2 separate regions of the Homo sapiens genome follow, and region 1 is linked to region 2. Evidence: fine-mapped expression QTL. A gene starts in region 2. The other region holds a variant in brackets. All regions are shown on one strand. Distances are between the middles of the regions. Region 1 has its middle 24 kb from the start of MFSD6. Region 2 holds the start of MFSD6 (major facilitator superfamily domain containing 6).

Region 1 (15,455 bases), 25 kb before region 2:
AAGGAAACTGGCTATTTCTCCCTATAGCAAAAGCTCAGTCCTTCCAGCTGGATTTGAGAATGGGTTGCCTGAGACGCAATGTTTAAATTCACCCACGTTGGGTCAAGTATTTCTAAAAGCAGGAAGCTCTATGTCAAGATGGCTTATCACCCTCAATCTTTCAAACAAGCTCAAACTATGACCATAGTAAATTAGTAGGACAGGTGTTGGGACAAACTCATCATGTGGTTAAATAACCGTATCAAGGTAGGCAAAATAATGAAAAGACAGAGTTCATACATTATTTCCCTTAGGATATAGGCAGGAGTGTCATTAAACTCGGAAATTTGTAGCTGTTTCTTTTTCCACCAAGACAGATTTTTAAAAATCAATTTATCACACTAATATACCATGAGGTAGGCCATGCATGTGGCAGTTTAGTGCTATGGTTCTTTAAATTCTAATGATTATGATCTGATTATGCAGATTATCCTGAGAATCATTATCTAATCTACAGGTAATCTAGATTTACACTGCCCAAATGGTAGCCACTAGCCTCAGGTGGCTATTGTGCACTTGAAATGTGGCTAGTCTGAATTGAGATGTGCTGTGAACATGCACATTGGATTTTATTTTAAAATAATGTTTAAATTTTATTTAAAAATAAGAACATCATAATTCTTTATATTGGTTCTAATGTGAAATGGTATTTTGGGTATGTAGGGTTAAATCAAATATATTGCCACAATTAGTTCTACTTGTTTCTTTGTGCTTTTGTGAATATAGCTACAAGAAAATTTAAAATTGCATGTGTGGCTTGCATTATATTTCTATACAGCACTGATTTAAACCCTCAATTTTTGTCTGTTAGTGCCTGACTCATGTCCATTTTACTTTTTTTTTTTTTGGTTCTTTCAATAAACCACCCAGCTAAAGAAAAGTATAAAACCCAAATCATTCAGATTTGCTTATCTTTAAGCATCTTTGATAATTTTTTTTTACTTAAAAACATATTTTGTAGAGACAGGGTCTTACTGTGTAGCCCAGGTTGTTCTGAAATTCTTGGGCTCAAGTGATTCTTCCATCTTGGTCTCCCAAAATGCTGGGATTACAGGCATAAACTACCACTCCCAGCCAGGTTTTTCACTTAAAAAAATTGTGGTAACATATACATAACCTAAAATGTACCATTTTAACCCTAAGTGTACAGTTTAGTAACATTAAGTGCATTCACATTCTTGTACAACCAGTGACATCATTCATCTCCAGAACTTCTTCATCTGCCGAACTCCATACCGATTACATAACTCCCTATTTCCCCCATCCCCCCACCAGGCACTGGCAACCGCCATTCTACTTTCTGTCTCTATGAATTTGACTATTCTAGGTACCTCAGATAAATGGAATCATACATTTGTAGGGTTTTGTTTTGTTTTGTTTTGTTTTGTTTGTTTGTTTGTTTGTTTGTTTGAGACGGAGTCTCGCTCTGTCGCCCAGGCTGGAGCGCAGTGACGCGATCTTGGCTCACTGCAAGCTCCGCCTCCCGGGTTCACGCCATTCTCCTGTCTCAGCCTCCGGAGTAGCTGGGACTACAGGCGCTGCCACCACGCCCGGCTAATTTTTTGTATTTTTAGTAGAGACGGGGTTTCACCTGTGTTAGCCAGGATGGTCTCCATCTCCTGACCTCGTGATCCGCCCGCCTCTGCCTCCTAGAGTGTTGGGATTACAGGCGTGAGCCACCGCGCCCAGCCTTTAATACATTTTCTACACTTCCTTTTGCCTGTTACTCCGCCAGCCATCTGCTTCTACTTAGCATCATCTCTGACTCAGCCCAACTGTTCCTAAGGACTGGGTCCTACACTCAGTAGAGTCTGAAGATCATTGTACTGGGTATCAGTTGCCAATCTTTTGCTGTGGCTCCTGACCCCTTTTGTAACAGGCTCCTGGCATGAGATTGTGAAGTGCCAAGGCATGAGTATTTTCGTAAAGGGTTTTCTGCTGTGTTAAAATGATTGGAGTATGAAAAACAAACTATTGAACCTCAATGAACACAGGTCCCTAAGGGAGCCCTGTGTTCGGAGGAAGTCCAGCAAGAATAAGTCTGCAGTAATACTCTGTATCAGTAACCAATAGGCTTATCTAGGAGAGGCAGAAATGACAAAATAACAATGGCCTAAGTAAGATAGAAGTGATTTCTCCCTCGCTTAAGGGAAATGGAGTGGTAAGTGCGTCCAGAGCTGAAAGGCGGCTCTATCCTAAAGTCCTCAGGAACTCACGCTCCTTCCATCTCACTGCTCTCCCATCTCCAGACTGTGACAACAGGATCTGCATTTTGGGCAGCAAGATAGAGGGAAAGACAAAGAACAAGAAAAGGGTGAATGATTTTTCATTCCTTTGGCCAGAACCTTGTCACATGAGTACACGCGGCTACAAGGGAAGCTTCCATTCTCAGAAGCCATGTACGCAGCCAAAAACTAGGAGTTTTAGCACCCAGGAAACAGGCATTTGAGGACAACTAGCAATCTCTATCACTCACCACAACTGAGCTGTCCCAGCTTTTACCCTCTGATTACATCCCTTGGACTTATCACTGAGGTCTCATGACATTCATAGCCCGATAATTTAAACTCTTACCCACATTGACTTATCTACTTATGATGCATTTATCCACTTCATCTCCCAAAGAATTAAAAGTGCCCTAAATATGTGCATTCATCAAGATGATAAGGAAAAGGAACTTCCTAGCAACAAAAGCATAATGGAAATAAAAGAGAAATGCAAGTACAGTTATTCCTCTCATGAGACCTATGAGAAATCGCTGAGAATCTTGACCCTGGCAACTCGCCTGGACGCCTGCTGACCCCTCCTCTCCAACCACACCTTCTGCCTCTGTGTGTTGAGTGCTCAGAATGCAGACGAGCTTATGTCACATCTCTACTGTGTACATACACTCTGCTGAGCCATTCCACTTAAGGAGTCTGTACACTCAGCGCAGGCCACAAACTGGGCATGACTCCTGGCCTCATATTCACAGCCCGGAGTATGCTGTTATTTTCATCAGCCTTTAAACACCCCTACTGTACCAAAAACAGCACTGCCCATCCCATGGCAGAAAAGATAAAATACGGAGGCACACATTTGCTGTTTGCCCAAATGGGAAAGAAACAAACAAACATTTTCTACATTTTTCTTCCTATTTCCAAGTTTTCTTCTTTATGTTTTTCTTTAAGTGCTAAATGCAAAAAGAGAGCATAAACAGTAAGTTGTTACCTTTACCATTCATGCTGAGCAGCTCTAATTGTACCTGGGTTGGCAGGTAGGTTGAAAAACATGTTTCTAAAGCAAACTTAAGTAACTGCAAATGTCCTCCTAAAATGCCAGGGAACTCAAAGCCTGGGTATGCATGCAAATAGACCTTTGAAACTGGTCTGATGGAGCGGCTGTTTTGATCATGGACACCTTTAAAAAAGGTTTTTTGTTTGTTTGTTTGTTTGTTTTTTTCAGATGGAGTTTCGCTCTTGTTGCCCAGGCTGGAGTGCAATGCCATGATCTTGGCTCACTGCAACCTCTGCCTCCTGGGTTCAAGTGATTCTCCTGACTCAGCCTCCAGAGTAGCTGGGATTACAGGCATGCGCCACCACACTTGGCTAATTTTTGTATTTTTAGTAGAGACAGGGTTTCACCATGTTGGTCAGGCTGGTCTTGAACTTCTGATCTCAGGTGATCCACCCGCCTCAGCCTCCCAAAGTGTTGGGATTACAGGCATGGGCCAACGCGCCCAGCCAAAACAGGTTTTATGTATTTATTATTTCTATCTGATACTCAAGGCTAGCCCAAGTTCTGGCTCTAACAAAATGCCTATAATTCTAAATATGATTTTTCTTTTCTAGCCTGTATTTTCAAAGTTCCTCATCTTAAAGGAGCCTTGAACATGTAGGATTAAGAGCTTTCTCCCTTTACCCATTTGCAAAAAGCAAACCAGTCCTGGGCTGGCTATATGGTCTTATGACCTGTGCCGGCTCACAAAGCTCCACCCTCAAAAATGTGCCATGCTTGGTTCTGCTATTGCCATGTTGAAGTTCTTAAAAATTTTACCTTCAAATTCATAAGTTTTGTAAGTGAATGGAGGGGCAATGGAGCATGTGCATGAATGGAGGTGTTACGTAGCTCTGAAAATATTCCAAACACTTTCTGCGTTAAGTGACAGATGTTTTGCTGTGATAAGAACATGGAGCATAGTCCCCTTCCCTGTCAGAATGTTACATCACACTTTTCCAGACCACATATGTGAGTTATTGGCCTCAACGACTAGACTCCAAAACACATATAAACCCAAGATTTTGGCAGACAGATTGAGAGCTCAGGCTGCAACAGGGCTAATCTCTGTCAGCCTTTGAGCTAGCTTTCAAAGCCTCGCCAGCCCACACAGCACTGGCACCACTTGCTAGTGTCCAGGGATCTTACAAGTTGTCTCGGATCTCCCTCACATCCACAGAGGCCTACTTCCATTCTAAGCAACTAAACTGTAATCACTGGACTTGAAATGAAATTATAACTAATTATGTGGATAATGTACCTCATCTGCGGAGTATAATCTCTGCGAGATTTGTTCTTGTTATTTCCCCCCTCTTTGAGCATTAAAAAAAAGAATCTCTTTGTATGGCAATAAACCATGTGATTCCTGAAATCATACTTTGATCATCTTCTTATTGTAGCCATACCAAATAGGAGGAGAAATGTACAAAATGTGTGTGCTTCGTCCCCTTGCAGTTCTGGTCACATAGGGTTCACAGCACCTGTGAGCACAGAATTCTTGTGGACCTATGTTGTATGGGGGTTCAATGAGACTCAAAGCAAGTGCATGGTAAGTGCATTACATTGCTGATGACTGAGCAAGTGGGGGCACTGACAGTTCCCAGAACCAGAACCTGCTTCCAAAGCAAAAACAAGGCAATGGCATTCTAAGAAACAGGAAAACTAAGGAAACCTCCCATGTCCTTTCTTATTTGTGCTATTTTCCTATATTAGCCAATCACATAGGCTGAAATGATGGCACAAAAGGAAAGGTAAAGATAGGACCACACATAGTTCCTTTCCTTTTCAGTTCCTTGCCAGTAAGCTGAAGGTAGGGAGGGCTGGTAGAATGCCGGGGTATCAAGAAGTGAAATAAAAAGAGTTGAGTTAGTTTCCTGCAATGTTTTCACTGTTATGGTAAGAACAATATATATATTCATGTGTGAACTGTGAAAAATGATTTATGTAATTTTGGTGATACCACATATGAGTTAAATACTCTCCAATCTGCATTTAAAACTGGCATTGGGCTGGGCACGGTGGCTCATACCTGTAACCCCAGCACTTTGGGAGGGCGAGGCGGGTGGATCACTTGCAGTCAGGAGTTGGAGACCAGCCTGGTCAACATGGCAAAACCCATCTTTACTAAAAATACAAAATTAGCTGGGCGTGATGGTATATGCCGGTAGTCCCAGCTATTCAGAAGTTTGAAGTGGGAGGATCACTTGAGCCTGGGAGGCAGAGGTTGCAGTGAGTCAACATGGCACCACTGCACTCCAGCCTGGGCGACAGAGCAAGAAGAGAGAGAGAAAAAAAGAAAAATTGGCATTGCATGAGGTAAACATGAATATTAAAGTTCAGACTAATCATTAAAATTGTTATTTTTCTTTATCTATAATGATATCAAACAGCAACAAACAAACACAAAACAACAAAACTCCCAAAACCCAAAAACCATGTCAAGTTGAGAGAGACCATGGAAGAGAGTAAAACTCTTTTTCCTTTATGTGCCTGTAAGGATACTTTTCTCCCTACTTTTTGAACAAGGAGCCCCACATTTTCATTTTATACTAGGTCTCACAAATTATGTAGCCAGCCCCAAATAAGTCCCAGTTCTACTTCTGAATTTACTGTCTTTTGTTCTATCTAAATTTTTGTCATATTTGCTAGTGAGGCCCAAACACAGCCCACTTGCAAGCTAGGCTTGCCCCATCTGAAGGCTCTTTCCAGTTATTTGAAAGCTGAGTTAATAAGGGAACCAGGATGTGCATTAGTACATTTCTCATCTTGTAAGTAAGCAAGTACATTCAGCACATTCTAACACTTGCTGTAAACCTATCAACACTCTCCACCAGGTGTCTCTAGCAGATTTGTGCAGGTGCAGATGCAACATTAAAGGCAAATTGTGGCAAACATCTTGTCTTGGCTAACTTCTTCAATGGGTCACTTTTTAACTGCATCATGTTTTTTTGTTTTTGTTTTTGAGACAGTCTGGCTTTGTCGTCCAGGCTGGAATGCAGTGGCAGGATCCCTGCTCACTGCAATCTCTGCCTCCTGGGTTCAAGTGGTTCTCCTCTGCCTCAGCCTCCCAAGTAGCTAGGACTATAGCCAAGAGCTACCACGCCCGGCTAATTTTTTGTATTTTTAGTAGAGATTGGGTTTCACCAAGTTGACCAGGCTGGTCTGGAACTCCTGAGTTCAGGCAGTCCACCCACGTAGGCTTCCCAAAGTGCAAGGATTATAGGTGTGAGACCGCGCCCGGCATTTTTTTTTTCTTCTTTTTTTTTTTGAGACAGAGTCTCACTCTGTCACCCAGGCTGGAGTGCAGTGGTGTGATCTGGGCTCACTGCAACCTCCACCTCCCAGGTTCAAGTGATTCTCTGCCTCAGCCTCCCGAGTAGCTGGGACTACAGGCACGTGCCACCATGCCCGGCTAATTTTTTGTGTATTTTTAGTAGAGAAGAGGTTTCACCATGTTGGCCAGGATGGTCTCGATCTCTTGACCTTGTGATCTGCCTGCCTCGGCCTCCCAAAATGATGGGACTACACAGGTGTAAGCCACCACGCCCGACCCTTTTTTTTTTTTTTGAGACAAAGTCTTGGTCTGTTGCCCCCGCTAGAGTGCAGTGGTGTGATCTCTGTTGGCTCACTGCAACTGCCACCTCCCAGGTTCAAGTGATTCTCTGCCTCAGCCTCCCGAGTAGCTGGGACTACAGGCACGTGCCACCATGCCCGGCTAATTTTTTGTGTATTTTTAGTAGAGAAGAGGTTTCACCATGTTGGCCAGGATGGTCTCGATCTCTTGACCTTGTGATCTGCCTGCCTCGGCCTCCCAAAATGATGGGACTACACAGGTGTAAGCCACCACGCCCGACCCTTTTTTTTTTTTTTTTGAGACAAAGTCTTGGTCTGTTGCCCACGCTAGAGTGCAGTGGTGTGATCTCTGTTGGCTCACTGCAACTGCCACCTCCCAGGTTCAAGAGACTCTCCTGCTTCAGCCTCCCGTGTAGCTGGAATTACAGGTGCCCACCACCACATCCGGTTAATTTTTGTATTTTTAGTAGAGACGGGGTTTCACCATGTTGGCAAGGCTGGTCTCGAACTCCTGATCTCAAGTGACCCACCCACTTTGGCCTCCCAAAGTGCTGGGATTACAGGCATGAGCCACGGCGCCCAGCTTGCATCATTTTAAATAAACCATCTTCCTTAACCAATTCGTTCCCTTTATTGTGTTTTAAATTGTCATTAAATAATCCTTAAAAAACTGGAAAAATATGGAGAAGTAAAAAGGAGGAGAAAAATCCAACATTCAAGCATAGCTACTGAGAACATTTTAGCCAATGTTCCTAGAATTGTTTTTCTTCTATGAGTAAAAGAATAAAGATTCAAACCACAGAATGGCAGAAGATATTTGTAATACATATCTGATGAAGGACTTGTGTCTAGAAGAATAATTAAATCAATTCAAAAGTTTACAAGAAATAAAGAGCCAATGAACATGCTTGATAATGTACATACTTGAACAATTCTCTGTTTCATTAAGATAAATGTTTTTATTTGTGTTTTTGTTTTTTGAGATGGAGTCTTGCTCTGTCGCCCAGGCTGGAGTGCAGTGGCACAATCTTGGCTCACTGCAACCTCCGACTCCAGGGTTCAGGCGATTCTCCTGCCTCAGCCTCCCAAGTAGCTGCAATTACAGGTGACTGCCACCATGCCCAGCTAATTTTTGTATTTTTAGTAGAGACGAGGTTTCACTGTGTTGGCCAGTCTGGTCTGAAACTCTTGACCTCAGGTGATATGCCTGCCTTGGCCTTCCAAAGTGCTGGGATTACAGGCATGAGCCACTGTGCCTGGCCAAGATAAATGTTTAGAGGTAAAACTGCTAGATCAAATATGTACATTTTAAATGTGGGTACCTATTGACAAAGGGCCCTCTAGAAAAGGTACACCAATTAACCCTTCATCAGTCGGGTGTGGTGACTCATGCTTGTAATCTCAGCACTTTGGGAGGCTGAGGCAAGAGGATCACTTGAACCCAGGAGTTACCAGCCTGGACAACATAGCAGCAAAACAAAACAACCTCTCATCAACAGAGGATGAGAATGCTCGTTACTTATATCCTTGCCAACACTAGATGATATCAGTCTTTCAAAATCTAATACGTAAAAAAGGTAAATCAGGTTGTTTTAATACTCTATTGCTTTCTTTAGAACTAATCATATGCTGATGAGATTAGTTGGCCAATTGTATGTAATTAGTGAAGGCCACTGTGTTACTTGACTTGTATGATTTTATGATGCAAAGTAGAAAAAAGTTTAAATAGTTGTATTTTACAGTCAGTGAGAAACATTATAGAGAAGTGTGAACTCAATAGAAGTTTGAACTTCAAGAAGCTTTCGAAGGATTTGAGCTGTCCAGCCACACAATGAGCCACATTCTAACTGCTGTTAATCCTACAGATATTAGACACATTTAAGTAAAATCTAGATGACCTTTTTTTCTGGGATTCCAGCCGTGATATCTAGTATTCATGATGAATCAGATACCCTATATTAAATTTTTTAAGTATAAAATTATTTTTGAGACAGTGTCTTGCTCTGTCACCCAGGCTGGAGAACAGTGATGTAATCATTGTAGCCTCAAGCAATCCTCCCACCTCAGCATCCCAAGTACCTGGGACTACAGGTGCATGCCACCACACCTCACTAATTTTTAAATATTTTTTGTAGAGATGAGGTTTCGCC[G/A]TGTTGGCCAGGCGGGTCTTGAACTCCTTGGCTCAAGCAATCCGCCTGCTTCGGCCTCCCAAAGTGCTGGGATTACAGGCATGAGCTTCCACTCCCAGCTGTAAAATTCAAATATGTATACTTTTATTTTATTTTATTTTATTTTATTTTATTTTATTTTATTTTATTTTATTTTATTTTATTTTATTTTATTTTATTTTATTTTTTGAGACAGTGTCTCGCTCTGTTGCCCAGGCTGGAGTGCAGTGGCGTGACCTCGGCTCACTGCAACCTCTGCCTCCTGGGTTCAAGCGATTCTCATGCCTCAGCCTCCTGAGTAGCTGGGATTACAGGTACACATTAACATGCCTGGCTAATTTTTATATTTTGTAGTAGAGATAGTGTTTCGCCATGTTGGCCAGGCTGGTGTTGAACCCCTTACTTCAGGTGATCCACCTACCTCAGCCACCCAAAGTGCTGGGATTACAGGCGTGAGTCACTATGCCAGGCCTAATATGTATACTTAAAAATATATACATTCTTTATGCATTTTCACCTAAAGATACCATCTATTTCTGCAGCTTCAACTATGACTATATATTTGATCCCCAAATTTATAAAAGGAAGAAAGGAAGGAAGGCATAAATTGGAATAGGAAAAAGCCCTAATCTCTCTTTTCAACTCCAAACCCACATTTCCAACTGCCCACTGGCCATTTCCACCTCCATGTCTTGCCAGTCCATGGAACACAACAGGTCCCAAAGTAATCATCTTCCCTCTCCCCCTCACCCTGGCTCCCAGTTAGACTCCAGTATTATGGTTTTCTGATCATAGATCTCCCCTTTATATTCTTCCCTGAGGAAAAATTCTGAAGTTCTGTTCTCATGTAGGGGCTTTCTCCCTGCTCTCTCCCCATTTCCTGACTTTCAACATTTTTTCTTCATTTCAACTTCCACATCACCACTTTGGCAAGACCTCTTCTTGCCTCTGACCCATGCTAGTACACTGCTACAGTCTGAATGTATGCGTCCCTCCAAAATTCATATGTTGGAACTTAAACCCCAAAGTGACAATATTAAGAGGCAGGGTTTTTAAGAGGTTTTAAGGAGTTATGATAGCTCTGCCCTCATGAGTGGGATTAGTGCCCTCAGAAAAGGAGTCAAGGAGCCAGGTGCGGTGGCTCATGCCTGTAATCCCAGCACTTTCGGAGGCCAAAGCGGGTGGATCATTTGAGGTCAGGAGTTCGAGACTAGCTTGGCCAACCTGGTGAGACCCTGTCTCTATTAAAATACAAAAATTAGCCAGGTGTGGTGGCACGCACCTGTAATCCCAGCTATTCGGGAGGCTGAGGTAGGAGAATCGCTTGAACCCGGGAGGCAGAGGTTGCAGTGAGCCACGATCTCACCACTGCACTCCAGCCTAGGTGACACAGTGAGATTCCATCTCAAAAAAAAAAAGTCAAGGGCTCAAGGAAACCAGGTAGGCCCTTTTTGCCTTTTTGCCCTTCTATCTTCCTCCATGTGAGGATGCAGCAACAAAGCACCATCTTGGAAACAGAGCACCACCCTCACCAGACACCAAATCTACTGGTGCCTTGATCTTGAAATTCTCAGCTTCCAAAACTGTGAGAAATAAATTTTCTTTTTTGCAAATTACCTGGTGTTAGGTATTTTGTTATAGCAGCAGAAACATACTAAGACACACACACCCACTGCCAGCAGGGCTTTGAGCATCGGCAGTCGTTTAAGGAAGCCTACATTAGGGGTTCTGCTGCCGTGGATGATATATGGCTGTAGGTGGGGCACAACTCTCTGTGTTACAGTCTCTTCATTAGTAAGATAGTCACAAGAGGCCCTTCCAATGCCAACATTGTAGAACTGATTCTTAGGCCCTTGTTTCCCTAATAACTCTGGTGACTTTCTGCTAGCTCCTAGGCTTTAGCTTGGCATTCAAGGCCTTCTTCCTGCTCGACCCCATCCCCCACAAAAAAGGATTTGAAAGAATAACAGGTAGGCAGTGAAACTGCAGGCAGAGCACCAAGCTCCTGCTCTACATTCCCCTTTTCTCTGAGATCTGAAGCCCTTCGATGTTGGCTGCTCAAAGTCCCTAAACTCCAATTTCTGTCTCACCAGGCCAGTGAGGCAGCTGCAAGCAGGAGTTCTCTTTCTCTGTCTCTAAGTCCCTCAATATGAATTTGCAAATGTCTTGGGCTAGGTAAAGATTTTTTAAGCAAAATACTGAGCACTAATCATAATGAAGAAACAGGAAATAACCTTGATGATCATCGATAGAAGAATGGTTGAAATAAAATGTCTAAATATAATGCTATATTATACAGCCAATAAGAAAGAGGAGTTAGATCTAGATGCATTGGGATGAAAAGATATACATGGTATACTGTGTTGCTAAGTGAAAAAAGCAATTTATAGAAGAGTGATCCAGTTTGTAAATTTAAAAAATATTTTTAAAAATCTAAGTATATACAACAAACTACTCACAGTAATTATGCCAAAGGGAGGGCCTACAAAAGTATCTTCATTTTCTCTATTATGGTTGTTGTTTGTTTGCAATAAGCAAGAATTACTTTTATAACTAGGGAAAACAGTGATATAAAAGTTGATACAACATTTCATTTAGAAAAAAGTAACATTTGGGCTACAAGTTATATATATTCTCTGGAATATAAACTTGATGAGAGTAGAGACCTTGTCTGTTTTATATATGGCTGTGTTCCCAGCACTTAGAACAGTGTAAATCACAAAGTAGATACTTGGTAAATATTAGTTGAATTAATAATTGAGTGAATGAATATGACCAGAATTATTTGACGTGAATGTTAAGACACTGGAGAGAGTTTCCTATATCTAGTTATCTTCAAAGGAGTATTACATGTGGTATTATGCAAGAATATTTTAAGGGGGATTACTTGAATACTGATATGTACTTTCCCCCAAATAAACATTCCTGGAATATGCTTTATTTTTATTTTTATTTATTTATTTTTTTGAGATGGAGTCTCACCCTGTTGCCCAGGCTGGAGTGCAGTGGCGTGATCTCAGCTCACTGCAACCTCCGCCTCCCTAGTTCAAGCAATTCTCCTGCCTCAGCCTCCCGAGTAGCTGGGATTACAGGCATGCACCACCATGCCTGGCTAATTTTTTTTTTGTATTTTTAGTAGAGACGGGGTTTCACCATATTGGCCAGGCTGGTCTCGAACTCCTGACCTTGTGATCCACCTGCCTCAGCCTCCCAAAGTGCTGGAATTACAGGCATGAGCCACCACTCCCGGCCTGGAATATGCTTTAAACATATTTATTTATCTATTTATTTCTCTGCTGAAACTGCAATTTCCTTAATATCATGGCGTATTCTTTCTGTGCTCTGTATCACCCCATTTCAATAAGGACTGTACCAGAACTTTGGGTGCCTAATAATTAACTGAATAATTGCTCAATTATTGATATTTCATTACTTATTTATTATCAATGATAAAAAATGATGCCTTGGGGCCAGGTACAGTGGCTCATGCCTGTAATCCCAGCATTTTGGGAAGCCAGGCGGGAAGAATGCTTGATTGAGCCCAGGAGTTCAAGACCAGTCTGGGCAACATAGGGAGTCCCCGTCTCTACAAAAAATAAAAATAAAAAAATTAGCCAGGCATGGTGGCATGCAGCTGCGGTTGCAGCACTCAGGAGGCTGAGGTAAAGAAATCACTTGAGCCTGAGAGGTCGAGGCTGTAGTTAGCAGTGGCCGTGATCATGCCATCGCACTCTAGGCTGGGTGACAGAGCAAGACCCTGTCTCAAAAAAATAAAAATAAATTTTGAAAAAAATGTGTTGGTATTTAAGGATGGAAACTTTATTTCTATTTGATTTTGGCAACATTAAACTTAGTAGAGTGTCAACTTTCAATCAAGCTGAGTGAGGATGGAATATGGTTCCTTTTACATTCTCTATGTGCCATATCATAATATTTTTAATATAGGATACACAGAAAAATGTTGCTATTAACAGTCAAATTTTCAACAATAGCAACAACACAAAACTTATGTTTACCACTCAGGGCTTTTTGCTTTGAAGGGAAACTTTATTTACTGCAAAATATTTTAAAACCAAGAAGATGAAAACACTTGATTTATACAGATTATGGAGAATAGTAAAATTTTTAGCTGAAGAGACCTTTCAGATACCAATTCCCAGCTTATTTATTTTATATTACAGCCTCTCAGACCTAGAAAAGTTGAGTAATCTGTGCACAGTGAGGGGACTCAGTGCCCTCAGACTAATGGTCTCACCATGAACAGTTGTTATATTTTTAATAATAAATGTTATTTGATTTTAAGTAATCAAAGCATTTTTAATTGTTTCAGGCTTTTATGTTGATATATATTTTAAAATATCATGCAGTAAAAACATCCAAATTCTATTTGCTATTTGTACAAGTCAGTGAGTATACAAATATCTGTTTCCTTATTGTTAAATCTGCAATTATTAAGATATTGTTTTACCTACACAGCTCCTCCTGAATTATATAAGTCTACTATCATATAGCAAAATATCTAGTTTGAAGAAGGATCATTTAAGTTTAAAGTAACTCAGTAAATTCCCAGACAACCAAATGGTAAGATGAATCAAGCCATAGCTTATGGCATATAGAACATTGTTCTATGTGATTTCCTGAATGGAAAAGAAACCAGTGTATTATGCTGAATCGATAGGAAATGGTGACACTCTGGATATCACAGCAATAGGTTCTCCAGAAAGAAATAATAATAAATACATTTTAGTTTATTGCCAATATAACACTTTGAGAGGGATACAGAAAAACTAGAAAATATCTAGAGAAAGTGACCAGATAGTGAAGATTTTCTTGTTATTCCAAATGGTGTCATTTCTCCCCATCCCACACCTACAGTGTTTGTTTTAAAATAATATTTAGGAAATACTGAATTCTATATATTAATCTTGTGCCTTGCTATGTTATAGAAATCTATTAATTTTAATAATTTTTCAGTTTGGTTCTCCTGAATGTTCTAGATATATAATCAAATAGCACAAATAATTTTGTTTCTTCCTTTCCAACATGTATAATCCATATTTTATTTTCTTTGCATTGGCTAGAAGTTCTGGAAGAATGTGGAAGATGAGTTTAAGTAGGTACAGTTTTCTGGCTCCTTAACATGCACCGATTATCCTTAGTAATGAGAGCTTGTCATGAAAAATAAACTGTAACCTTATCTAGCAAGGAAGGAAAATTTCCTAATTTGCTGTATGATATCTTGGGTCCTTTGGTAGCATTCAACATGTGGCACTCCTACTGGACAGAGGTTTTCTTTTTAGAGTCAGCATCTTGCTCTGTCACCCAGGCTGAAGTGCAATGGCACGATCACGGCTCACTGCAGCTTCAAACTCCTGGGCTCAAGCAATCCTCCCACCTCAGCCTCCCAAGTTACTGGGACTACAGGTGTCAGCCTCCTCCCCTGGCATGGGTGGAGTTGTGCTTGGCTTATAAAAAAGATATGGTCCAGTCAGTAGTGACAAGGAGAAAATGGGATGATTTTACTCAAACAAAACACGAGTCAAGCCCCCCACCAGCTGTACTGAATTACAGTTGACATACCATAAACTGCACATAAAGTATACAACTTGGTAAGTTTTACCCCTGAAACAATCACCACAATCAAGGTAAGGAACATATCTATGATGCTCCAAAATTTCCTCATGCCCCTTCGTAATTTTTCTCTCTTTCCCCTCCCTACTCTACCCTGACCTCCATTCCTGGGGAACCACTGATCTGTTTTCTGTTCCTACAGATGAGTTTGCATTTTCTAGAGTTTTATAAATGGAATTATACCGGACTCTTTTTTGGGATGTAGTGGTGTCTGGCTTTCTCCACTGATGATAACTATTTTTATATTCATCTGTGTGTGTTTGTTTATTCGTTAATGCACTCATCAGTAGCTTGTTCTTTTTATTTCTGAGTATTATACTGTATGAATATACAATTTGCTTATCCATTCACATGTTGGTGGACATTTGGCTTGTTTCTAGTTTTTGGCTATTACAAATAAAGTTGCTATGTACATTCATACATGTCTTCATGTGAACATATGCCTTCATTTCTCTTGGGGATATACCTGGGAGTGGAATAGCTGGGGTAGATTTATGATTAACTTTTCAAGAAACTGCCAAATTATTTTCCAAAGTGGTAGAATCACCAGCTTTGTCTGAGGTTCCATTTGTTCCACATTCTCTTCATCACTTGGTATGCTGCTTTTTATTTACCTATTTCTTTATTCACCTATTCTTCTTCATATGTACCGGTATCTCACTGTGGTTTTGACATGTTTCCCTAATGTAGGTTTCTTACCTTTATCACTATTGACATTTTGGACCAAACAATTCTTTGTGGGGAGGGGACACTGCCAAATGTATCTCCAGACACTGCCAAATGTATCTG
Region 2 (15,455 bases):
GAGAAAGAAAGAGGTAGTAATTTGTAAAGGTCACAAGGGGATCTTGTGGAGTGCTAGTAATGTTCAGTTTTTTGCAATTAGTGGTGATTACACAGTTTTTATTATATTTATTGTAACTCAGTTGTACTCTTATGATCTGTGTACTTTTTTGTATGTATGTTATACTCTAATAAAAAATTTTAAAAATTAAAATATAATTTGTTTTTTTTAAAACCACATAACTGAGATACATTTGAAGTGCCTTGCTTACTATTAGATAGGTGCAAGGCTGGAAACAGGGAAGCCACTATGGAGACAGCTGCATTAGGTCCTGAGTTGGAGTGGTGTGTATAGGGATAGGGTAGGTGAAACATAGCAATGCTGAGAGGATACAATGGGCAGAACTTAGTGTTTGATTGAAGATGATTAAAGATTTTGGACTATCTGCTTTAAGCCATAGGGACCAAATGGATTTTTCTTAGGGGAGGAGGAACACGGTAGAAGAGATATTTTTGAAAAGTTAATCTGCGTACCACTCATAGCATATGTTGCCTGCTATTATAATTATGTTAATTATAACTGATCTATTTGTAGACATGTCCCTGTTAGTAAATCACAAGCCTCTTGATGGAAGGGACCTGATTTTATACTTCTATATCCAGGGCCTAACTCTCTGCCTCACTAAAGTAGATTTATTGCCATTTAAGTACATAAATAGTAGACAATAAACACCACATAATGTGGAACTGGATTGGGAATGAACAAGAAAAAAAAATCTTAGAGAGTACATGAAGGAAATGATATTCAAATATGTATTATTAATTTTTAAAGATTGTATTAAACCATATATAGAAAGATTCTTGATTAACCTAGTGAAAAATAGCTATGTCAAAACAATAGCCAGCCTCATACTCAGTGGCAAAGCAATAGAGATATTTGTAGTAAAGAAAGTAGTAAGAAAAGGAACAATTGTTGATCATCACCAATATTTACTATTATTTTGTCAACATAGTAAGATTTTAAATATAGATATAAATATTGGAAAGGAGACTAAAGTATCATTGTTTGTAGTTTAATATGATCACCCACCTAGAAAACTCAAGAGAATTAAGCAAAAAAGATATCAGAATAAAAGATTTAAATAAATTAGCCTTCTTTCCTTCTGTTTACATAACTCATCTTTTTGGTCTAGTGAAAGTCCCTCTTCCTTCATAAGCCAATGCTGAGGAGGGAGGGTGGGAGAGGGAGCTAAAAAGAATTCACCTCATCACTACTGTCACCATTGGATTTATCCATTTATTATCATCCATTCAGTCAACAAATAATTTATAACTCTCCTTCCATGCCCCTTCCATTTCCTCCCCGCAAGGTAATTAATGTCAAGAGTGGGGTGTTTATCCTTCCTTGCCTTTCTCTATGCTCTACAAGCATATTCCAACAGTCAGGCTCTATGATACAGTTACAATGGTATATCAGGGCTGCTGGTTGCACCCAGTGTCTGTTCTCTTCTTTCACAGTCATAGAATTTTTATCTGTGTACATGGATACTGAGTTAAAGACTAGATTTCTCAGCTTTCCTTGCAGATAGATGTGGTCATATGAGCAAGTTCTGCTACTGGAATTTAAACGAGTAATATGTACATATGTACAACTTCTGGTCATGTTCTTTTTCTTCTTCTTTTTTTTTTTTTGAGAAGGAGTTTCGCTCTTGTTGCCAAGGCTAGAGTGCAGTGGTGCGATCTCAGCTCATTGCAACCTCCACCTGCTGCGTTCAAGTGATTCTCCTGCCTCAGCCTCCCAAGTAGCTGGGATTACAGGCAATTGCACCATGCTTGGCTAATTTTTTGTATTTTTAGTAGAGACGGGTTTTCACCACGTTGGCCAGGCTGGTCTTGAACCCCTGACCTCAGGTGATCCACCCGTCTCGGCCTCCCAAAGTGCTGGGATTACAAGCATGAGCCACTGCGCCCGGCCCATATTCTTAAAAGAAAGGAAAATGCCTTCCCCTTCCCCTTTTCCCTTTTGCAATGGCTGGAATGTGCACATGAGAGTAAGAGTTGGGGCAGCCATGTTGGGTTTTGATGACAGAGCAACAAGATCAAAAGAGCATAAATCTCGAGTCCCAACACCATGGGCTCACTTATTTACCTAAACTTTTTAATTTTATGATTTTTTAAGTTCCAGGGTACATGTGCAGGATGTGCAGGTTTGTTACATATGTTTACCTAAACTTTTATATGAGGGAAAATCATACTTTTTAAAAAAATTTAAACCACTGTATGTGGGCTGTTCCAATGGACTACTGTCCATGCTAAATAATACAAATGTTGAACAACATAGTGTTTCCCCCTGTCTTTAAGGAGCTTGCAATCTAGCATAGAAGTTAAACAAATGATTACAATAGTATATGATAGATGCCATGATAGAGAAGGCACATGGTAAACGAAGCCACCGAGGGGCGATAAAGCCAGTCTATGGAGGACATAATGCTTTGTCTAGGATATGGAGGAGAGAGAGAGTGCAAACCACTTACACCTGCTTGAAACAACTCTTCTATAGTCTTCAGTGACAACATCCTCCTGAATTGCCTTCTACTTCTGACTGATCCTTCCTGGTTTTCTCTCCTATACCAACTGGTAAATGTTGGCCCTTCTCTGGGCTCTCTGAGTCTATTCTCTTCCTGAGTAATCCCCTTCAGTCCAATGACTGTAAATAGTACCTCAATACTGATGACTGCCAAATCCAGCCCTTTCTTCTGGGCTGTGGACTCAAGTTTAATTGCCTACTTCACAGCTCCACCTGCAAGGCTCACAAGCATCTCAAACTCACTGAGTCAAATGTGAATTCTTCCTTTTTTCCTTCCAGCCTGCTCCTCCCACAGTCTCCTCCCTCTCAGTAAAGGTTATCACAATCTTCCCTAGTTGCTCAAGCCAGAAACCTGTGAGTCATTCTTAACACCTCCTTTCCCTTGCCTCCCACATGCAACATATCACCAAGTATGCTCATATACTTCCCCAAACTCTCAAATCTATCTGTTTCTCTCCATCCCAGCCACTACCACTGTGGTCCATGCCACTGTTAACCTTTCTCCTTGCTACTGGTTACAGTTACTTTTTTTTTTTTTTCTTTGAGACAGGGTCTCACTCTGTCACCCAGGTTGGGGTACAGAGGTGTAATCATGGCTCACTGCTAAGGTTGGGAGATTGACCTCTCGGGCTCTGTCAATCTTCCTACCTTAGCCTCCCTAGTAGCTGGGACTATAGGCATGCCACCACACCTGGCTAATCTTTGTACTTTTTGAGAGATGAGGTTTGCCATGTTGCCCAGGTTAGTCTCAAACTCCTGGGCTCAAGTGATTCGCCCACCTTGGCCTCCCAAAGTGTTGGGATTACACGCATGAGCCACTACGCCCAACACCAAAAGAATCTTTACAAACACCTTACCATGTAATTTCTTTGCTGTCTCATAGGATTGTGCAACACCATGAGGCACCCTTCACATTGTATTGTACCTCCTAGCTGTGCAACCAGCCAACATTGCTCCTCTCCTAAAACATAGTGAGACTCCACCTGTACAAAAAAAATTAAAAATTGGCTGGGTATGGTGGTATGCACCTGTAGTCCCAGCTACCTGGGAGGCTGAGGTGTGAGGATCCCTTGAGCCCAGGAGTTCGAGGTTACAGTAAGCTATGATCACACCACTGCACTCCAGCCTGAGTGACAGAGCAAGATCCTGTCGAAAAGAAAAGAAAAGAAAACAGATTACTTTGGTGGCAAAGTGAAAAGTTGATTGGATGAGAGAACATTTTGAGGCAGAGAGACCAGAGAAATTTTGCAGGCAAAGGAGAGATAACAGAGATTAGGATAGCACAGGGATGGAGAGAAGAGGACAGGTGCTAGAGATATTTGAAAAGGTAGAATCAAGAGTTTGGCATCTGACTGGATGTCATAGACAGAGTCATGGCCCGCTGTAGATGTCCATGTCTCAATCCCAGGAGCCTGTGAATATGCTTCATGGTAAAAGGGACTTTGATGATGGGATTAAGATTCTTGAAAGGAGGAGATTACGCTAGATGATGAAGGTGAACCCAATGTAATGAGGGTCAGAGTCAGAAAAGGCAATGTGAGGATTGTGGCTGAGGTTAGAGTGGTGTGCTTTGAAGATGGAGGAAGGGTCCATGAGCCAAAGTATGTGAGCAGCCCCTAGAAGTGGAAAAGGTAAAAGAAATGGGTTATTCTCTACAGCCTACAGAAAGAATACAGCCTTGTAGTCACCTTGGTTTTAGTTCACTAAAACCCATTTTGGACTCTTGACCTCCAGAATCGTAAGATAATAAATGTGTGTTTTAATCCACAAAGTTTACGATAACTTGTTACAGCAGCAATAGGTAACTAATACACTGGGCATGGGTATAAGGGTGAAAGGAGCATTGAGAAGAAGGGCCTTGTACAACTGGGTGGATGGCTGTTTGGGACCCCAGAGTCTGGGAACCCAGAAGCAAGAGTGAATGAGGGGCCGGGTGCAGTGGCTCACACCTGTAATCCCAGTACTTTGGGAGGCTGAAGTGGGGGGATCATTTGAGGTCAGGAGTTTGAGACCAGCTTGGCCAACACGGTGAGACCCCATCTCTACTAAAAATACAAAAATTAGCCAGACATGGTGGCACATGCCTGTAATCCCAGCTATTCAGGAGGCTGAGGTAGGAGAATCACTTGAACCCGGGAGGCAGAGGTTGCAGTGAGCTGAGATCACGCCACTGCAATCCGGCCTGGGCGACAGAGTGAGACTCCATCTTAAAAAAAAAAAACGAGTAGGGGAAGAACAGAAGGTAAAGAAACATTGACGTGGCACTTAGTGAGGTTGGGGTGCCTGTGACACATCCCACTGGACAACTGGCCATAAGGATCTGGCCCTCAGGAGAAAAGCTGACCCCGAGAGAGGGCTTTTGGAGCACCCTCAAATATTCTGTGATTGAAGCCAAGGAGTGAGAGAATTCGCAGAAACAAACAGAATCAGAAGAAAGGAAAGCCTAGAACAAAACCCAAGGAAAACTAAAACTCAAGTGGAGCAAAGGGGAGTGGCCAGAGAGGAAGAGGAAAACCCAAGACTTGTGGGTCACAGAAGGCAGAGGAGGGGAGAGTTTCAAGGAGGAAAATCCAACACTTACGGAGCACCAAAAGAAGAGAAGGGAAGAGTTTCAAGGAGGGGACCAGTGTCTCGTGTTCCTGACAGGAGAAAGAAATGCCTGGAGAAAGAAATGATTGAATATCTACGTCAATATTGAAAGTGGATTTAGCATGAGGCTACTATAGTTTAAGCTTCAGAGACCCTTCATAAGCTCAGGAAGGGGCCCTAGAAACTTCGTATTTGTAATTGTTTTATTCTTCCTAAAGAGGGACTCAAAATTCAGAAACTTCAGGGCCTATCAAATTCTTACCAGTATGATTTCACGGTTAAGAGCTTAAAGCCTGGAGACAAAAGAAGCCTGCTTTCCCTTTCGCTGTTTAGTAACTTTGGATGGGTCACATTAACTTTCAGCCTCGGCTTTCCTCAGTTGTAAAATGGGAATAACGTTTCCTACACCTATAGGGTTATAAGGCTCAAAGAGTACCTACACAGTGCCCCGTACATAATCGATGTTTATAAGCGTTAGCTACCATTGTCACTCTTGTCGTTGTTGCCGTTAGCTACCATTGTCACTCTTGTCGTTGTTGCCAGAACAAGACAATAAACTCCTTAAGAACAGGATGTGGCATCCCCCAAAGCCCATCACAGGCACACAGACATACTTGCCAAGTGAATACTCCACTCTCCCCCAACTCTCTGCGTGTTTAACTAGAAATACAACTTTAATTATATTCTTAGTGCGACACACACGGTTGGCTTTTCAGCAAGATGCCAGTAGCAGCTTCCTGAAAAAGGGTGCCTTCGTCTCAGTGTTCCCCCTTCTTGGTGAGCCCCGAAACTCACAGATCGTTTGTCTCCCGCACCCCGCCGGCTCCTCCCTCCCGGGTCAACCTGGGACAGACGCGGAGATAACGCACTGACAGCATTAGCATTGTGTGTGCCACTTAAAAGGCGCTCAAGGAATAAGGGATGTTAGTACATTTTCCCCCACATTTCCTGGCCCGCACTCATTGCCTGGGGGCTCAGCGGAAGTCGCTTGGGGGTGCGGGGGGGTGGAGGGTGCGGTAGGGATGGAGCCTCGCCCAGTGCTTTCGCCTCCTCAGCGTGCTCCCCGGGCCCGGCTGGGTTCAGGTGTCCCTCCGGGCCGCCGGGGCGGGCTGGAGGCCGGGAGCGGGCAGTCGACGCATCCGCCGCCGCCGCAGGAGGCGGAGCGCTGCACCTGGCGGCCGGTCCTCAGCGCCCGGCCCTGAAACGGGTCCAGCCGGTAGTGACCGGCGGCGGCGACTGTGAGGCCGGGGCCGGGGAGGAGGAGGAGCCGCAGCGGGAGAGAAGGTCGCGCCGGCGGGAGCGCTGGGCCCTCCGCCTCCGTCCTCCGTGGCCCCACCCGGTCCGCATCCCTCGCCTCGCCTCGCCGCGCCCCGCCCAGCCCGTCGCAGCCCCGGAGGAGCGCGCGAGCAGCCCGGGATGGTGCGCGCTGCCCCGACAGCCGCCGCCCCGGCGCCCCGAGCCGCCGCCCCGTGCTCCGGGGACAGGGCTCCCCGCGCCCCGCGCAGCTGAGCGCTGCCGCCGCCGCAGCAGGTGAGTCGGGCCCGGCTTGCGGAGAAGGGGCTCGCAGACCCGCCCTGGCCTCCCCCGCCCCGCACGGGCCCAGCCGGAGGGCGGGTAGGCACCTCAGCCGCGCACACCTGCTGCCGGGAAAGGGGCTTCGGGGCCGGGGCTCGGAGCCCAGCGTGCGCCGCTGTCTCCGCTCGGGCCTCGCTCGCCCGCCGCTCCCTCCCTCCCTCCCTCCCCCGGCTTCCGTGTCGGGTGTCATCTTTGTGGGGTGCTGGGGGAGGCTGCCGCCTGCGCCCCCAGCGCGCCCCGTGCTGGCAGCACTTCCGCAAACGTAACTGGAGTCGGGAAAACAAAGGCGCTGCCCAGGGAGCCCTCGCCGGGCGCCCACAGCTGCTGCCGCGGGTGGGGACGGAGGGTGAGCGCCGATGCCCGGGTCCTCCTCCGCCCGGGCCGACCCGCGCCCTCGCCATAAACATCCCTGGGAAAAAGGAGGAGGTGAGAACCTCCACACAGCCCCAGTGACAAGGACGCGGCCACTTGTGTGGCAGGAGGAGGAAATTGACAACGTCTGCCCTCCCAGGTTAATAAATACGGAAAAAAAAATACCTCTGCTCTGCCAGCCACCATCCTAGCAGACATCCCCCACCTCGTGCTTTACTTCCACTTGGTCTAACATGTCTCTGGAGCCCTTTTGAGATACTACTGGGGGTTGCTAGTCTTTCTGGGTCATATTTATTGCCCATAGAGCAATTTTCCTGCAAATTTAGGTAAGATGGTGGAAAAATACAAACGCAACTTTCCCCCTCGTTAATCCCATCCCCACATGGACAGACAGGTGGGTTAATTACCTTTATGCATTCGCAACCACGGACGTTTCTTTTCATCCCAAAAAGATTGAATAAGCACCTCACAGAACTACTGGAACATATAATACCTTGCTTATTAGTGTGCAAAAGACTTAAAGAGTTGGGGTTCTAATCCCAACTGGTATTTAAATAGATGTGTGTGCTTGGGCATGTCACATCTTCCTGAGCCCCAGTTTTCTCACATGGAAAAGAGGATGGTTGGATATTATAGTGGCCAAAATTTCCCCTAATCCTTCTAGAAGTCCATGATTTTCTAGAAATCTAACCTCTTAAGTATAGATGAATGTGAAGGGTGGGTGGACATACAGTTGACTAAAATATGTAATAAAAGGAGATGTGTACTTGGTAGGTCCTTTCCCCAAGATGTGGGCACTAGCCAGCTAAAAGTGTATGCATCTGTTTTAGCCTTGTTAAGTAAAAGGATAGGATCCTCCTCTTTGGGAAGCTTGGCTTTTGACACGTCAAGCTGCTAGCAGAGGTGCAGGATATGGTCAGCTGTTTAGTGATAGTCAGATGGCTTGTATTTATCACGAGGTGTAAGTAAAATTTAGGATTGCTTAGGGGAAGGATGGGACATTGTTAATGAGCCCAGTGCAGGATGCTCTGGGGAAACAGGAGGAGAGAACATCACTTCAATAATGCATTAAAGCTACTAAGTAGTTGTGTGTCCTTCATGTTTACAGCAGTTTATTTCTAAGGCACTTTCCATCTCTATACAAATAAATATAAAAGCGTGAAGGCAAATAAAACACAAAGACAAAAAGCAGAGTTCACAGGTATTTGGTGGTGTGAGTATTGGATCACCAATTCCATCATATATAGTGTCTGGACTATTAACAGTATTAAGGCATTTTTTTGGGTACTTATTATGTTCAAGACACCATTGTAAACATTTAGTATCTCAATCTCTGTAAGATAAATCTTTCCCCTAGTTCTGTGCATGACAAAAAGGAAGCTCAGAAGGGTTAAGCAACTTACACAAACCACATAATCAGTAAGAGGTAGAGTTAAATTTGACCTCATGTTTCTGGCTCCAAAGCCCAGGAAATTTCCACATGGTGTCCCTCCCTAATCAGAACCTATTAAGTCTCTCCACCTACGCAGATGTCTTCCTTAGCTTCGTGCCTTTGAAAATTAACTTGATTTCAATGTACATGTATTACTTATGTTAACATTTAGCCATGTAGGATAATTTATATATTTATTACGTATGTATATTAATGTGTGTATGTTTACCCTTTTGTCCTCACCAGTTGTAGATTGAAGGCAGTATGAAGCTGACAGGTTTCTTTGTTTTACTTCCTTTGACAGCAAATCTTAATTTGGCAATCTCATTATAGGGAAAGGAAGAAATGCAAAAAATGTGTGTCTGCTAGCTATTTTGCACATTGGCTGAAAAATCAAGATGCTGTATATTAAATGAAAAAAATGGCTGGGCAAGGTGGCTCATGCCTGTAATCCCAGCACTTTGGGAGGCCGAGGCAGGTGGATCACGAAGTCAGGAGTTCAAGACCAGCCTGGCCAAGATGGTGAAATCCCACCTGTAATAAAAATACAAAAATTAGCTGAGCGTGGTGGCGGGCGCCTGGAATCCCAGCTACTCAGGGGGCTGAGGTAGAGAATTGCTTGAATCCGGGAGGTGGAGGTTGCAGTGAGCCGAGATCGCGCCACTGCACTCCAGCCTGGGCAACAGAGCGAGACTCTATCTCAAAAAAAAGAAAAAAAAAAACTAGCTTCAGAAGAAATTTATATACATTTGTTTAAACCTGCATACAGGCACACATACGCCTTTTTGTCCCCAAACTGTTGACAGTAGTTTTTTTTTTTTTTTTTCAGACAGAGTCTCGCTCTGTCACCAGGCTGGAGTGCAGTGGCTCGATCTCGGCCTACTGCAACCTCTGCCTCCTGGGTTCAAACTATTCTCCTGCCTCAGCCTCCCGAGTAGCTGGGATTACAGGCACATGCCACCAGGCTCAGCTAATTTTTATTTTTTTAGTAGAGACGGGGTTTCATCATGTTGGCCAGGATGGTCTCCATCTCCTGACCTCATGATTCCCCTGCCTAGGCCTCCCAAAGTGCTGGGATTACAGGCATGAGCCACTGCGCCCAGCCGACAGTGGCTATCTTCAGGAAGTGAGACAAGATGGAGAAAAGAGGATGTTTTTGCTTTTTACCTTATAAAGTTATGTTTGGGCTTAAAATTTTGTTTTTGGAACAAGCATGTGTTCTCTTATTATATAAACTAAAAAGGAAAACAAAAGAAGACTAGAATTAATTGATTTTATAACAATCCAAAGTAAGATAAAATTGAATGTGCCTAAACTCTAATGTTAGGGAAGTGAAATGAGACTCAGGAGATCAAAGTGAAAGGTGGCATACTGAGAATTGGGGGGCAAAGGGTAAAGAGTCTCAGGTGACTGGCTTTTACTTTTTCTAATAGTAACTGTAGCATATTCTACAACTCCTCAGTTTTCCTCCTCAATAAGAATGCTTTGGAGCATACACAATTTATCTGCTTGATTAGGGGTGATAAGAATTTCTTTCTTCCTGGTCTTGCTAGTGGTGGCTGTCTTTGGAAGCATGATTGTTCTGTACAGAACAATCTGGTAGAAGGTAGGAGTTGGAGAAACCAATTTACCTGCTGTGTCATCTCATGAAATTATGGCATTCTGGATGACTTTAGGTATAATTATTTTTAGTAACAATTTAGGAGAAGCAAGTTATCATAAAGTTAAACTAATCTGATGCATATGTACTTGTTAAATACAGTCCCATAGTTCTATCCAATTCTATGTAAAATTAACTAAAACCACTGCTTAGAATCCTTAAAAATTAATACATTTCCAGACTTAGAAATCCAGAGCCATAATACATTCAGACTTTTCAGAATCAAGAAAACACATGCTTAAACTTGGTTAATTATCATTGTGGTAGTAGGTAATCTTGAGAAAGAGGGAATTGTAAAAGTATTTTACAGAAGAGATATTCTCACAATTTTAGGTATTATCCAACATTTCATTTTGGGTTCTAATTATGTTTTAGGCAGAAGGAAATCTCCATCTTTTAATTTAGGAAACTTTGTTCAATAGGTTATCTTTAAAGGCAGAAATCAAGTGCAAAGTCCTACCCTACTACAAGGCCAGTTTGGGTAAAATTTCTTCCTCAAACTCAACTAACATGGCATTTCCTTGGGCATAGCATTTTTGATTCCTGGGAAAAGCAAACAAACACATCTGATGTCAATTCTGTGTGGGGCAATGAAAACACCTTAATGCCTCCACCAAGAACATTTCCTTTGAGTTTATAATTCCTCCATGTTTAATTATCCAACATTAGCTGTCTGTTCCCATTTACTCTACTGGCATTTTGGGGGTGAGAGGGGCTTGTGTCAGCCTGATTTGTTTTCCTAAATTCTGAATGATACGTTATCCAGTACTTAGCCCCACTGCTGGATTCAGTAACATTTGCTTTGTAGCTGTTTTTGATTGCCCACATTTGGATGATATTTATTTACTGTTTTTGCAAAATGGCATTGTCTCAAGTTGGCTGGGCAACTTTTGGAATCTACCAGTCATTTGTTCAGACAAGTGATGTTTGGTGCAGGGGCCAAAACAGAAAAGCCAACCAAATAATAAATAATTACAAACGTGGAACACCTAAACCTTGAGCCTATATGTTAATATGTGTCTGCTATAGTTACTGGTTGCTATGTTATGGCTTTAAAAAGAGCACACCCTCCCAAACCCCCACCTCTACCTCAGCACCAACAAAAACTACATCCCAATGTTGTATGTATTCAAAGTAGCCTCTCCCTGCCTTGATCCATTATGATGTAAATCTAGCTGAGCCACGTGTTGATGATTATGTTGAAGAGATGTGAGTGAGAGTTCTGTATTACCTTGTGACCTGGTGGTCCTGCTGCATTTTAGGATGGGAGGGGCGGGGTAGAATGGGGGAGAATAGGGCAAAGATGGGAAGAAATTCAGACCCTTAAAAAACCATGTTCAAGAGATGTGGAAAAAAATTGAATTAAGGGGGGCAGAGATGTCTTTCTTTGACATTTGTTGTGGGGCATGTTTTAGAATGGGAGACCAATTCAGGAAACATTTGGCAAGTACAAAACAGGAAAGGCCAGCTCTGAATGACTCTGAGGAAATGTTTGGAAGCATTTTGATCTGAGACCAAGAGTGGGATGGGGGAAAGACAGGGAAAGACAGGGACACTATGAATCAGCAGTGGGCAGAGTGAGCTCTGGTGTGTGGCTTTGAGGAGGATAAAAAGGAGGAACTGGTGCTGCCTGAACAAGCCCGATGTGTGGGTTAACCGTGCCAAAGGAAAGTGAGTGGCGAGCCTGGACTGGTAGTTAGCAGTCTGTGTTGGTTATGTAGAGAGACCTTGTTCCACAGGCAGGTGCACTCCACTCTGCACGGGGCCTGCTCTCTCTGAGCTCCAATAAACCAATGTACCATGAGCCCTGCTATACTGTGGGGTGAAGAGGAGACATGGCAGTCAGGGCCCAGGATTCCAGGAGAAACTGAGCACTGGAGCAGTGGCAGGAGTGGGTCCCTGTGAGTCACGCTGGGAATTCTTAACTGTTCAGGGCACTTTTAGGGACAAAGTTAAGGTAGAACATACTTGGCCTCAAGGTACTTGGCTCAAGGTAGAGCAAAGGAGGAAGGCACCACACCAAACACATAAAGCAGAATCATACAAAGTGACATGCATGCTGCCTATGACTTTTAAGAAGTACTGTGTTCCTGGGGCCTGTCTGGGGGGTTGGGTGGCAGGGGGAGGGAGAGCATCAGGATAAATAACTAATGCATGTGGGGCTTAATACCTAGATGATGGGTTGGTAGGTGCTGCAAACCACCATGGCACACGTTTGCCTATGTAACAAACCCACATGTCCTGCACATGTGTCCTGGAACATAAAATAAAGAAGCGCTGTGTTCTTGATTAACGTGCTCCAATCCAGCAAAGGCAAGCTTCTTTAGCTATTATGGAGTGCCTTTCTTAATTCTATTTCAAAATCATGCCTGTGCAATTGTGTTTAACTAATGAACAAATATGCCCCAATTCACATTTATAAGGGAGTTTAAATAAAAGACTTTATTATGATTCTTTTGAATGAGTAAACATGACACATTTCAATTTTATTTTCTGTGTAATGAGGCTCCCTGTAAAAGGTGTGCATATCTTTTAAGAGTGTCTCAAAGTCCTTGTGACAGTCCCTTTCAATTCCGTATACTGGGAAGCACAAGGCATTAGATGAATGATCAGACCTCAATTTAATAACTCTATAATTTTTCAGGAACTCCGGGAACAAGGACATCCTAATTGTCACTCAAATGTTTTATATTTAAAATAATTCCTTTTTAAATATGTATTTTTAAAGTGATAAATAATGATTTTTTAAAAATCCAGCCAAGTATAAGAAAAAAATTAAATAAGTCCTAATTTTACTACTCAGAGATAATCCCTGATAACACTTTGGTGTCATTTTTATCGAGTCTTTTTCTAAAATACATTTTATTTGAGCTACATAGATTTACAAATATAAACTGTACTATATCGAGAGGTTTGTGTCCTGCTCTTTCATTTAACATGATGCATTTTACCATGTAGTTAAGTTCTATTTTCCCATGATATGGATATAAGATTTTATTTTTCTCTATAGCTTATTTACCTATTTTCACCATAACTTATTTAACTGTCCTTATTATTGATCACTTACTTTGTTTCAGTTGTGATTGTTGTGAAAAGTGTTGCAATAAAAATCTTTACATTTAAGTCTTTGCTTTTCAGAAAGTTTATGTTTTTACTCTCAGTGAATGACAATGCCTGTCAATTCTCATACTCACCAGCATTGAATATTTCCATTTTAAAAATTATTGGTATGGTATGTATGTTAAAGTATCTATCTTTTTTATTTTTATTTATTTACAGACAGGATCTCTCTCAGTTACCCAGGCCGGAGTGCAGTGGCGTGATCCTAGCTCACTGCAGCCTTGAACCCCTGGGCTCAAGTGATTCTCCTGCCTTGGCCTCCTGAATAGCTAGAACTACAGGTATGAACCACCATGCCTGACTCATTAAAAAAAAATTGTAGACATGGGATCTTGCTTTGTTGCCCATGCTGGTCTTAAACTCCTGGCTTCAAGTGATCCTCCCGCCTCTGTCTCCCAAAGTGCTGGGATTACGGATGTGAGCCACTGTGCTCAGCCACTTTTTTATTTTATGGGCTAAGTAATAAACCTTTTTCTGAAACTAATTATATCATTAGAATTGATAGCTTATGGTAATTCTCAAGTTATCAGAACCCTAACAGCAAAATAAAACAATTTTAGATTACATATATGGGAAGGTACTAAGGATATAAATTATTCTTTTAGACTATAGCACATTTAGGGGATGTAAGTAAAAATAACTGATGATAGTCCAGGGCTATAGGAAAATGTATTATAAACCTTGAGATCTATATTCTGGTCTCAATTGTAAACTCATAAAAGGTCTGAGAAAGAAGCACCCATACATTTCTGTTTAAACTGCCTTGTCTCGTGTATAGATTGTGCTTTATTTAACCCTCTTAACTTCCTCAGTGTCTAATAGTGTTAGAATAGCTCTGTAATGTGAACTGTTACTTTTTCCTCCCGCTGGGCTTGTTCTAAGACAGGAAGCTTATTTGAAAGGTAGAAGGAAATGAAGTTCTGGGGCCTGCTTCAAATTTATATTATAAATTATGCTATATTGGCACAATATTTAATCAGGAGTCTAAAACTAATAAGTAGGAATCTGCTTCATGATGGCTGATAAGGTCTGAGGAACCTAAATTATAAATTTTTAATTGACATTTGATTATTTTCTTCCACAAAGTGAAAGTGAAAATCTAGTTGGTCTTTATTACTAAAGTCATCTTTATGGTTATAAGCTATTTCCTCCAACCCTTAAGAGATCAAAATAATTTGTTCCTTTTTCACCCTGTTAGCAAGTTGAAAGGAAATGTTAGAGAGGATTTCAGGTCCTTTCTTTCAGATTTATGATGTTACAAATATAAGTAAAATGTTTCTACAGAATATTTTATTTTAAGTGAATAGTTATTTCTTTCCTGGAGATAATGAATTATCATTCCAGTCCATATTACAATAGTGTGTTCTCCAGTGAACCAGTGCCTCACAGGCCCCCATCAGGCTGTAGACATGAAAACAGACATGAACATAAATTCATGAGCACAGATGGATGAAATACTAGCCTAGTTCAAGGGTGGTGCCAAATAATTCTGGGAAAAGTGCTTTTGGCATAATTGCAAAATAAGACCCAGAGTTTTAATGAAATATCTGGAATAAAACTACAACTACCAGCAACACCAAATGTTCATATGTTGCTTTTAGATTAACAGAATGCTTTCTCATACTTTATTTCATTTAAGCTCTAGAATCCTTCTGGGAGTTAATTGACTTAAGTTTGTATGGAAAAGGAGGCTTAAAGAGGCACTGATTTATCAAAGCCAGGGGGATGCAACTGGGACTTCTTTTGACTCTACTTCCTAAAATGAATTTTTGATCACATTAAACTTTAATAAAAATTTATATGTTTATTGTCATCAGGTGCTTGTCAAAATAAACAGTATTGAGAGCTTACAGGGGTAAAGGGCAATATGTTATGTTCTAGATTCCTCCCTCGAGGGGTATACAGTCTTGTTGGGCAAACGAGATATCTGTAAAAAGATAGCAATAAAATTACCTATAAATCCTACAGTAGATGTGAGAACAATCTCTAGAAGTAGAGGAAGGAGTGAGGAAAATGTTTCAAGTGTATTCTATTTCCAGATGTTATGAAAGGTCCCATTAGATATAGTGAATTCATAAAGTACTGTTTGTTCTGAAATGATACCATCACAGGACTTCAGTACTGGATCATTAGCGGTAAGAT

What was found. PIP is the estimated chance that this variant, and not a neighbour inherited with it, causes the effect.
Region 1: its variant is fine-mapped to the expression of MFSD6 in whole blood (INTERVAL, PIP above 0.99).

The regions. Positions count from the first base shown.
Region 1 is chr2:190,376,929-190,392,383 of GRCh38, forward strand. No RefSeq gene overlaps it. Among named protein-coding and RNA genes, the nearest start is that of MFSD6, 24 kb to the right of the region's middle. The variant G/A (reference allele first, on the strand shown) is at 9,018.
Region 2 is chr2:190,401,820-190,417,274 of GRCh38, forward strand. MFSD6 (major facilitator superfamily domain containing 6) reads left to right here and starts at 6,536. Exons shown (of 8, transcript NM_017694.4): 1 at 6,536-6,684; 2 at 13,473-13,594. RefSeq lists an enhancer at 5,807-5,856 and a silencer at 6,117-7,156.